2 separate regions of the Homo sapiens genome follow, and region 2 is linked to region 1. The links come from fine-mapping of genetic effects on gene expression. A gene starts in region 1. The other region holds a variant in brackets. All regions are shown on one strand. Distances are from middle to middle. Region 1 holds the start of RASD1 (ras related dexamethasone induced 1). Region 2 has its middle 37 kb from the start of SMCR2.

The links. PIP is the estimated chance that this variant, and not a neighbour inherited with it, causes the effect.
Region 2: its variant is fine-mapped to the expression of RASD1 in whole blood (TOPMed, PIP 0.98).

Annotation. Positions count from the first base shown.
Region 1 is chr17:17,492,984-17,498,349 of GRCh38, reverse strand. It overlaps RASD1 (ras related dexamethasone induced 1), which reads left to right and starts at 1,955. Exons shown (of 2, transcript NM_016084.5): 1 at 1,955-2,454; 2 at 2,666-3,913. The coding sequence starts at 2,169. The coding sequence ends at 3,225. It overlaps MED9 (mediator complex subunit 9), which reads right to left. Exons shown (of 2, transcript NM_018019.3): 2 at 5,129-5,366. RefSeq lists silencers at 1,235-1,464, 1,515-1,644, 1,805-2,024.
Region 2 is chr17:17,638,295-17,643,660 of GRCh38, reverse strand. No RefSeq gene overlaps it. Among named protein-coding and RNA genes, the nearest start is that of SMCR2, 37 kb to the left of the region's middle. The variant G/A (reference allele first, on the strand shown) is at 2,271.

The DNA.
Region 1 (5,366 bases):
TGGGACTAGAGCCCCAGGAGGCAATGGCTGTGTGGGGTCCACCTTCACTATAGCCCTGGCCATCAGTCATCCCAAGTTAGAGCCCGGCTGCCCATGCAGTGCCGCTGTGGGAGGCACAGGAAGGCGGTGCTCAGTCTGAAGGTGGTTCAGGTCCGTACCTTAACTGAGCCCCCCCATGTACCCTCAACTGGCTCCTTTATGCAGTGAACACCCTGCACCACTGCAGCCCTATATCCAGGGCTGCGACTCAGTTCCTTCTCCCCTTCTCCCAGACTCTGGCAGACATACCTCAGATGGGGGCAGGAACCAAGAATGGCGGGGCTCCAGCCCCAGCTAGCCTGTCGGATAACTGCTGCATAAGTGACACCAGGAATCAGAGCCAGGCCAGGGCCACTGATGAGCCCTTGGATGCTCACTGTGTGATGCGTGCATTTGAAATATCTGACAGTAAGAGTGAGGCCTGGGAGAGATGCAGGGACTCTGAGGATGGGGGCCAAGCTGGGCTGAGAAACAAGTTAGTGGTGTCCTGCAGCAGCCCCTACAGCAAGTGCCAGCGTGGGAGGGAGGTGGGTAGGCATGGGGTGGGTGGTATGGCACTCACAGCACTGCCTGCAGACCACCACCTGACAGCTGGGCCGGTGGTGCCAGCTAATGGCTCCCTAGTTTTCTCGTAAGTCAGACGTGGCCAAAGCAAAACACTGAGCACACAGGTTGCCTTGAGGAGCAGTGACTGCCTCAAGAGCTCAGGGCTGAGGAGCTGGCTCCAGACAGCCTGTTGCCAATGTTCAGCAACATCACCCCACTCCTGGTTACTGATCGACCTGGTGTGCTCTTGAGAGTACCCCCACCAGGCCTCATGGGTCAATACTACTGTTATTGTTGCTATTGTTATTACCAGGCCCCGCCCTCCTAAAGCATTTGCATATTTTCATCCTTAATCACAGAACCAGAATCAGTATCTTCCAGAAGAGAAAACTGAGGCCCAGGAGAAAGCAAGAGGCTGTGCTGTGCTCCCAGGGCCTTCCTGGCTCGCTGTGGCTTTGAGCTCCAGGTCTCTCAGCTAGACAATGAGAACGTCGGCCCACGCGCGGCACAGTAAAAGCCCAAAATGCTATGATGGACGGGGTGGGCCGCTGGCTGCAGAGCCCTCCATACCACAGAGCATCTCTGGCTGGGAGAAAGGAGCAGGCTGAGGCCTGCAGCAGAGCGCGGGGTTGGGGACCGCTCCTGTTGGGCCCCAGCAAGGCGCCCTGAGACCCCTGCTCCATCCCTGCCGCTCCCCACCCGCCTGCTCCTAGCCTCTGTTCTAGCTCTGCCCGCGGCGGCCACAGCCTCCCCGAGCCGCCGGCCGGGCCCTCTGCTGCCCTCTGGCGGCCCGAGCGCGCGGTGCCGAGCTCCGCGCCTGAGGCCCTGAAACCCCGCGTCCGCCCGGCGGTCGCCTCCCGGGAACAAGAGCCCGGCTGGGGACCGGAGCGGAAGGGGGCTGGGGCTGGGGCTGTGCTCTGAGGACTGCAATATACGGTCCGCGCAAGCACTCAGCAAACGCTGCTGCGCTTACTGGGTTACTTACTAGATTCCTATTCTCTGGGGAAACTGAGAACCAAAGAAAATAAGTGTACGCGCGCGGGAGGTGCAGGAATGGGGGTCCTTGCCCGAAGTCGCAGAGGGACAGGGGCACCGCCGGGACCAGAACCCCGACGCCCCTGCGGCCGCCGAGCCCGCGGCAGTGGAAAAGCGGAGTCCGAGCGCCTCCAGCCTCAGCCCGACCCTGGACTGCTCCCCCCAGCCCCCGCGCCCAGAGAGCAGGAGCCCGGCAGCGGGTGACGAGGTCGCCGGGACTGGGAGCCGGTGCGGGGGAGGCGGGCCCCGCGGGGCGTGACGCACCGAGCTGGGAGGGCCGGGGCGGGGCAGCCGAGCAGGCTGCATATAAGGGCGGCGGCCGGGCGCCAAAGCCAGAGCAAGCGGCCTGTGCCCAGATCCTGGGAGAACCCCAGCCGAGCCCAGCCTAGCCCGAGCCCAGCCCGAGCGGAGCCGGAGCCCCAAGCCCGAGCCGCGCCCAGCCCGAGCAGAGCCCTCCAGCCGCTCACCCCGCGTGCCACCCCAGCGACCCTCAGCCGCTCTCTGCCCTTCTCTCGGCCCCGCGCCCGCCCTCGCGGCCCCTCTGCCCAATGAAACTGGCCGCGATGATCAAGAAGATGTGCCCGAGCGACTCGGAGCTGAGTATCCCGGCCAAGAACTGCTATCGCATGGTCATCCTCGGCTCGTCCAAGGTGGGCAAGACGGCCATCGTGTCGCGCTTCCTCACCGGCCGCTTCGAGGACGCCTACACGCCTACCATCGAGGACTTCCACCGCAAGTTCTACTCCATCCGCGGCGAGGTCTACCAGCTCGACATCCTCGACACGTCCGGCAACCACCCGTTCCCCGCCATGCGGCGCCTCTCCATCCTCACAGGTGAGCCGGGGGCCGGGCAGGTGCGGGAGGGAAGGGCGGGGAACCCTCGGCCAGGGCGCCCCGCGAGCGCCGGTCCGGCTGCCGCGCGCCGAGTAGTGCGCTTCGCGCTTAGAGAGGCTAGCGCGCCCCGCGCGGCCTCAAAGTCAGCCCGACTTGTCCCCTGGGCGGCCACCCTCACCTTCTCCTTTTCTGCTCTCTGTGCCCCCTCTAGGAGACGTTTTCATCCTGGTGTTCAGTCTGGACAACCGCGACTCCTTCGAGGAGGTGCAGCGGCTCAGGCAGCAGATCCTCGACACCAAGTCTTGCCTCAAGAACAAAACCAAGGAGAACGTGGACGTGCCCCTGGTCATCTGCGGCAACAAGGGTGACCGCGACTTCTACCGCGAGGTGGACCAGCGCGAGATCGAGCAGCTGGTGGGCGACGACCCCCAGCGCTGCGCCTACTTCGAGATCTCGGCCAAGAAGAACAGCAGCCTGGACCAGATGTTCCGCGCGCTCTTCGCCATGGCCAAGCTGCCCAGCGAGATGAGCCCAGACCTGCACCGCAAGGTCTCGGTGCAGTACTGCGACGTGCTGCACAAGAAGGCGCTGCGGAACAAGAAGCTGCTGCGGGCCGGCAGCGGCGGCGGCGGCGGCGACCCGGGCGACGCCTTTGGCATCGTGGCACCCTTCGCGCGCCGGCCCAGCGTACACAGCGACCTCATGTACATCCGCGAGAAGGCCAGCGCCGGCAGCCAGGCCAAGGACAAGGAGCGCTGCGTCATCAGCTAGGAGCCCCGCCGCGCTGGCGACACAACCTAAGGAGGACCTTTTTGTTAAGTCAAATCCAACGGCCCGGTGCGCCCCAGGCCGGGAGCGCGCGCGGACTGGCGTCTCCCCTCCCGGCGATCCGCCCCCAGCACTGGGGAGGCGCCACTGAACCGAGAAGGGACGGTCATCTGCTCCGGAAGGAAAGAGAACGGGCCAAGACTGGGACTATTCCCCACCCCCGGTCCCCCATTGAGGCCCGCCACCCCCATAACTTTGGGAGCGAGGGCCCAGCCGAGGGTGGATTTATCTTCTCAAAGACCTAAGAGTGAGCGCGGGGTGGGGGAGGGATGTGAAGTTATCCAGCCTCTGCTAGGCTTCAAGAAACCGTCATGCCCGCTTGAGGGTCAGGACCCACGGGGCATTATCTTGTCTGTGATTCCGGGTTGCTGTGACAGCCGGTAGAGCCTCTGCCCTCCCAAAACTAAGCGGGGGGGCGTGGGTCAAATCATAGCCAAGTGACTTGTTTACATGTGAGTGAAACTGCACAAAGGAACACAAAACAAAACTTGCACTTTAACGGTAGTTCCGGTGTCAACATGGACACGAACAAAACCTTACCCAGGTGTTTATACTGTGTGTGTCTGAGGTCTTTAAAGTTATTGCTTTATTTGGTTTTTTAATATACAATAAAATAATTTAAAATGGAAAACCGGTTTTTTTTTTTTTTTTTTTGCTTTTAGAGATGGCTGGAGTGGGGAAGGGTGGGGAGAAGGAAAGGGCTGGGCTTTGACTTAGGTGGAACTAGAACTTACCTTCCCCAGAACTGGAAAATAACCCTGGCCTTCTGAAGGCAGCTTCAGCTGCCAGAAAAGCCCCAGATGCCTGGGGCATCTATGTAGGGGATGGTTCCCTAGAAAACCGGGAAGAATATAAAGGATTTCAGGGTCCCCCCTGGAGATGAACTCTTTCTAGCCATCCACCCGCTTAATTTTCTTTGGGTTAGATGACAAAAGGCCTCATTTTCTGAGAGAATGTTCTGAATTCTTCAGCGTAAAAGCCACTGGAACTGTGCCTAACCATTTTGTCACCAGACTCAGTGTGGGCCCAGGCAAACTTTCGGACTGTTGGAGGCATCAGTCAGGCCCTGGGGAAAGAGCCTGAGACCCCATCTGGAAACAGGACCATCCTGGCGCGCCCCCACCACCCGCTCACTCCAGGGTGCCACCCTGTCTGGAAACAGCTAACTCCTCAGCCTCTGCTCCCCTCTAGCTCCAGGAAGTGCTCCTGGCCAGGTGTAGAGCCCCATCCCCCTTCAGCCTTGCTGTCTCCGTCTCATGGCTAAGGCACCCCAGAACACCAATCTCTCTGCCACTAGTACTGCAAACCTGTTGGTGGGTGACACCTGCCAAGCCTCTAATTCTTCACCCCGGGAAGAGAGAACACCCTCGGCATGGGCTCACTGTGGGGATTAAGTGTGATGTTTGAAAAGTACTTAGCATAAATGCCGGCCACCCAGTAATCCAAGTAATTGGTGGCTTTCAGAGGACGCTCAGCCCTGTGAGAGACACTCAAAATTGTCCTAGAAGGATTTCAACCCTGCTCTGGTGAGGGCGGCTCCCCACAGGACTGAACCTCCTCGAGTCACCAAAAGGCACCCCCCACCTCCCCCCTCCAAAAATAAAAGGCAACTAAGGACAGCCCAGGGATGACCCGCCAGGCAAACTGCCCTTGAGGCCAGCCGGGAGAGGAGTTCCTGTTCCACACTGGTTCAGCGGGTGTGTGTGCTGGGGCGGGTGTGTGTGCTGGGGCGGAGGGAGTGAGGAGCAGAGGTGTGGTTGTGTCTGAAGAGACTGAGAGAAACATTTTCCTCTCAACTATCTGAGAGCCATCCCACTATGAATTTCTCAGTACAAAAAGCATTATGTCCTGAGACAGCAGAGCATAAGTCCTTTTAATTATGTGTTTGAAAAATGTCACAAGTCAAAAAAGGAACACAAGGCAGGCTCCGGCTCCCTCCACCCCCGTGAGGAGCCCTTGTCCATTTCAGCCTTGCACTCAGAAAGACCCCGGGGGTCTTGTAGTTCCACGTGCTTCATGTTTCGTGGTATCTGTCAGAGCCTTAAAACAGGCCCACCCACTACTGTGAAATTTCAAGGAAATAA
Region 2 (5,366 bases), 150 kb before region 1:
CGATCTTGGCTCACTGCAACTGCTGCCTCCCAGGTTCAAGCATTTCTCCTGCCTCAGCCTCCCGAGTAGCTGGGATTACAGGTGTGTGCCACTACACCCGGCTAATTTCTGTATTTTTAGTAGAGACGGGGTTTCACCATGTTGACCAGGCTGGCCTCAAAGTCCTGGCCTTAGGTGATCCACCCACCTCGGCCTCCCAAAGTGCTGGGATTACAGGCGTGAGCCACTGCGCCTGGCCACTATGCCATTTTATACACGGGACTTGAGCATCCTTGGATTTTTGGTATCTACTGTGAGGGTCCTGGAACAAATCCCTCGTGGATATCAAGGGACAACTACACTCTTGAGGTTCTGGGGGTTAGGACTTCAACATTAGAATTTTGGGGGATACCCAAGCATGGTAGCTCATACCTGAATTCTCAGTGTTTTGGGTGGCTGAGGCAGCAGGATCTCTTGATCCCAGGAATTTGAGACCAGCCTGGGCAATAAAGCAAGACCTTGTCTTTACCAAAAATAATTTTAAAAATTAGGTGGACACGGTGGTGCACGTCTGTAGACCCAGCTACTTGGGAGGCTGAGGAATGTCGCTTGAGCCCAGGAGTTCAAGGCTGCAGTGAGCTATGATCATGTCATTACACTCCAGCCTGGATAACAGAGGAAGACTCTGTCTCTTAAAAAAAAAAAAAGAAAAGAAAAAAGAAAAGAAAAAAGAATTTTAGGGGGATATCTCCCAAATTAACTATTTGCCCTTATCCCAGGCTCTGCTTCTGGAGGAGCCCAGTGGAGCCACTGCCCTACCTTGCTCTTCATCCCGGTGAGGATCAAGCCAGCAGATGCTGGCCACTGCTCCACGGCCATGGACTCAATACCCAACACAACAGACAAATCCCTGTCCTGTGGAGCTCATGGCCAGGTTGGGGGTGGGGGTGGGGCAGGCTGCAAACGTGCCATTGGTTTGGCTGAGGGTGGGCCTGGGGAGGCTACTTGAGCCCAGGGTGGTCAGAGAAGGCCTTACCAAGGAGGTAATATTTGAGCTGAGACCTGAATGGTGAGAAGATTCCAGCCATGGCAGGTGTCGGGAGAAGAGCACTTCCACTATCGGATACAGCAAAATGAAGCTGTCTCTGCCCCTCCCATCCTACTTCCCAACCACAAGCACTCAAGCCAGGAAGACCTGAGGAGCATGACTTCAGGGAGAAGAGCCAGATTCCTGTCCTGAGAGCAGTGATGGAGGCTGCTTAGTCTGGAGGAGAAAGTGGAGCTCCCTGGATCCTCCAAAGGGCTGTCAGAGGGCAGAAAGGTTGATGAGCTCTTCGTGGAAGTAGAGCAAGAGCCAAGAGTAGATGTTACACGGAGATAGCAAGAACTTTGTGATGAAGACACATGGAGAGTGAGACCCCCACCCTGGACGTATTTAAGCCCAAGCTGGATGATCTCTTGGCAGGATACCATAGAGGGGACCCAGAAAGTCTGGGTTCGCTGTCAGAAGCACCCAGACAGGGCCAGCCCTCTGATTTTCAGCTGTGGTAACAGTGGGCCTCCTCTCCTGCCCCTCTTATGAAGTCAAAGAAAACAACTCTGCCCTTGGCCTAGAATCACAACTGCCTGGGGACAGTTTCCCAAGGGCACATGGTAATTCCTGTACTGTCCTTGTCATCCGCCAGGTGGCACTGTTTGCCTGGTGTTGGGGCAGAATTGAACTCCCTTAAGCATTTTTAAACGACTGGTGAACTGGGGAGATACCAGTGTTGCAAGGACCCAGGAATGGCCAGAAGGTGCACTGCCCGAGTGTGGAAAATCCTTACAGACCCCGAGACATGCGCTAAGATGGTAGTGGGTATATGTGGCCTCATGAGAAGGGTCAGTGCAGACCAGAGGCCCCTCTCACCTCTGCCACCTTCCAGCTGTGTGACATTGAGCAAACCACCTCTCAGAGTCTCGGTTTTCTCCTCCATAAATCAAAGACTGGCCCCACCTTGAGATTTTGCCGAGATGATTAAAAACAATCCACGTGCCTGGCCCGGAGCAGGTCGCCAATAAAACATGGCAGCAGCCATCAGTGGTGTAGGAACTGTGGTGTAGGAACTAAGCTCTCAACGTCTAAATGGCCCCCCAAAGTCTCCAAGAGCCCCTTCTCTTATCTGAGGAAAGACAGGTGGACGTTCCTGCCCCTCTTAGTCCAATGATGGGAACTTTGATTGCCCTTGAGGGCCCTGGTGGCTCTCCAGGCTAGTGAGGCCTCTGCAAAGCATGGCTTTCTTCCTGTTGGC[G/A]ACTTCCATTCAAGCAGATGCTCTCCAGACCCCAACTCCATAGAGAATCACCCTTTTGGAAAAAATGGTGCTCCTCTCCTCTTCATGGTTTGCCTTTTTTTTTTTTTTTTTTTTTGAGACAGGGTCCCGCTCTGTCACCCAGGATGGAGTGCAGTGGTGCGATCTCAGCTCACTGAGCTCACTCAGCTCACTCTGCCTCCTGGGTTCGAGTGATCCTCATGCCTCAGCCATTCACCTCCACGCCTGGCTAATTTTTTGTATTTTCAGTAGAGATGGGGTTTTGGGGTTTCGCCATGTTGGCGAGGCTGGTCTCGAACTCCTGAGCTCAAGTGATCTGTCTGCCTCAGCCTTCCAAAGTGCTGGGATTGCAGGGATGAGCCACCTCACCCGGCCTTATGGTTTGCTTTTCTTATTTGGTTTCTTGATAACAATTAATAGAGGTTCTTGAATCCCTCAAAAGTGTTCACTGTGGAATGTGAAGCTTTCTGTAGTTTCATTCCTGGTGCTAAGTGCTGGTAGAAATTTGTGTAGATTCCCTTGGGACTTTTTTTTGTTTGTTTTTTTGTTTTTTTGTTTTTGTTTTTTGAGATGGAGTCTCGCTCCGTCGCCCAGGCTGGAGTGCCGTGGTGCAATCTCGGCTCACTGCAAGCTCTGCCTCCTGAGTTCACGCCATTCTCCTGCCTCAGCCTCCCGAGTAACTGGGACTACAGGCACCCGCCACCACGCCTGGCTAACTTTTTGTATTTTTAGTAGAGACGGGGTTTCACCGTGTTAGCCAGGATGGTCTTGCTCTCCTGACCTCGTTATCTGCCTGCCTTGGCCTCCCAAAGTGCTGGGATTACAGGCATGAGCCACTGCACCCGGCCCCCTTGGGACTTTTTCTAAGCATATGCCTAAGCCCACATTCATGTAAAAGTTATTATTACTTTTGAAAAATGAAAAAATACTGGTTCCTCCATTCATTCATTCGTTGTGCATTCAACCTGTGTTTGGTGCTGTGAGCCCTAGGGTGCAGTGAAAAACAAGGCTCTTAAAACCCTGCCCTCAGTTGGCATTCCAGCTGGGAATGACATACACTCCATAAGCAGGAGCAGAGGAGGGCGCTGGTAAATTGGAGTAAAGGGTTAGCGAGTGTGTTTGTTTCCTGCTGTAATGAATTGCCACAAGTGAGAGAAATTTGCTCTCTCACAGTTCTGGAGGATAGAAGCCTGAAATCAGTGTCACTGTGCAGAAATCAAGGTGTCTGCAGGGCCGTGCTCCCTCTGCAGGGCTCTAGGGCAGACTTGTTCCTCGCCTCCTCCAGTTTCTGGCAGCTGCCGGCCTTCCTTGGCTTGTGGCCACATCACTGCCGTCTTCCAGGCCAGCATCTTTGGAGGTCTCTCCACTCCATCTGCACCCTGTCTTCTCTTCTGTGTGTGGTCATCACTCTGCCTCCTCATTCTTTTTTTTTTTTTTTTTTTGAGATGGAGTTCCACTCTTGTCACCCAGGCTGGAGTGCAGTGGTGCAATCTCAGCTCACTGCAACTTCTGCTTCCTGTGTTCAAGCGATTCTCCTGCCTCACCCTCCCCAGTGGCTGGGACCACAGGCACGTGCCACCACACCCGGCTAATTTTTTTTTTTTTTTTTTGAGATGAAGTCTCACTCTGTTGCCCAGGCTGGAGTGCAGTGGCGCCATCTCAGCTCACTGCAACCTCTGCCACTTGAGTTCAAGCAATTCTCCTGCCTCAGCCTCCCGAGTAGCTGGGACTACAGGTGTGTACCACCACGCCTGGCTAATTTTTGTATTTTTAGTAGAGATGGGGTTTCACCATATTGGCCAGGCTGGTCTCAAGCTCCTGACCTTGTGATCCACCCGCCTTGGCCTCCCAAAGTGCTGGGATTACAGGCGTGAGCCACCGTGCCCGGCCAATTTTTTGCATTTTTAGTAGAGACAGGGTTTCATCATGTTGGCCAGGCTGGTCTTGAACTCCTGACCTCAGGTGATCCTCCCACCTCAGCCTCCCAAAGTGCTGGGATTACAGGCGTGAGCCACCACCCATGGCCTGCTTCCCCATTCTTATAAAGACACTAGTGATGGCATTCAGGGCCCACCCCGATACCCCAGGACAATCTCCTCATCTCAGAATCCTCAGTCACACCTGATAGACCCACCCCGCTTTTTGCCATGTAAGAAAACTGTCTCAGTTTTTTGTTTCTATAAAACAAACTGGGTCATTTATAAACAATAGAGGTTTATATGCTTATGGTTCTGGAGGCTAGGGAGTCCAAGCGCATCACACTGGCATCTGGTGTGGGACTTCTCATGGCATCATTCCATGGCACAGGGCTTCACATGGGAGAGAGCAGAAGCTGTCAGCTCAGGTCTTTCGTCCTCTCCTTTTTTAAACAATTTGTTGGAGACAGGACTCACTCCATTGCTCAGGCTGGAGGGCAGCAATGTGATCACGGCTCACTGTAGCCTCCACCTCCCCAGGCTCAGGGAATCCTCTCACCTCATGCCTCCCGAGTAGCTGGGACTGCAGTACGTGTGGACGAAATCACCACACCCAGCTAATTTTTGTATTTTTTATAGAGATGAAGTTTCACTGCATTGCCCAGGCTGGTCTTAAAAACCTGGGCTCAAGCTATCCACCCACTCAGTCTCCCAAAGTGCTGGGATTACAGGCATGAGCCACCTCACCCAGCCTCTTCCTCTTCTTAGAAAGTCATCAGTCCCTTCCTGGGGGCCCTGCCCCAATGACCTCATCTAATCCCAACTACCTCCCAAAGGCACCACCTCCAATCAACATATGAATTTGGGGATTAAGTCTCCCACACATGAAATTTAGGAGACACATTCAAAACACAGTAGTCTGCCCTGGGCCCCAAAATGCATGTCCTCACATGCAAAATGTACTCATTCCATCCCCAAAGCCCCAAAGTCTTAACCTGCTCCAGCATCAACTCAAAAGTCTGCAGTCCAGAGTCTCATCTGAATGAGATATGGGTGAGACTGAAGGTACGATTCATCCTGCGATGAATTCCTTCCAGCTGTGACCCTGTGAGATCAAACAAGTTATCTCCTCCCAAAATACAGTGGTGGCACAGGCATTGGA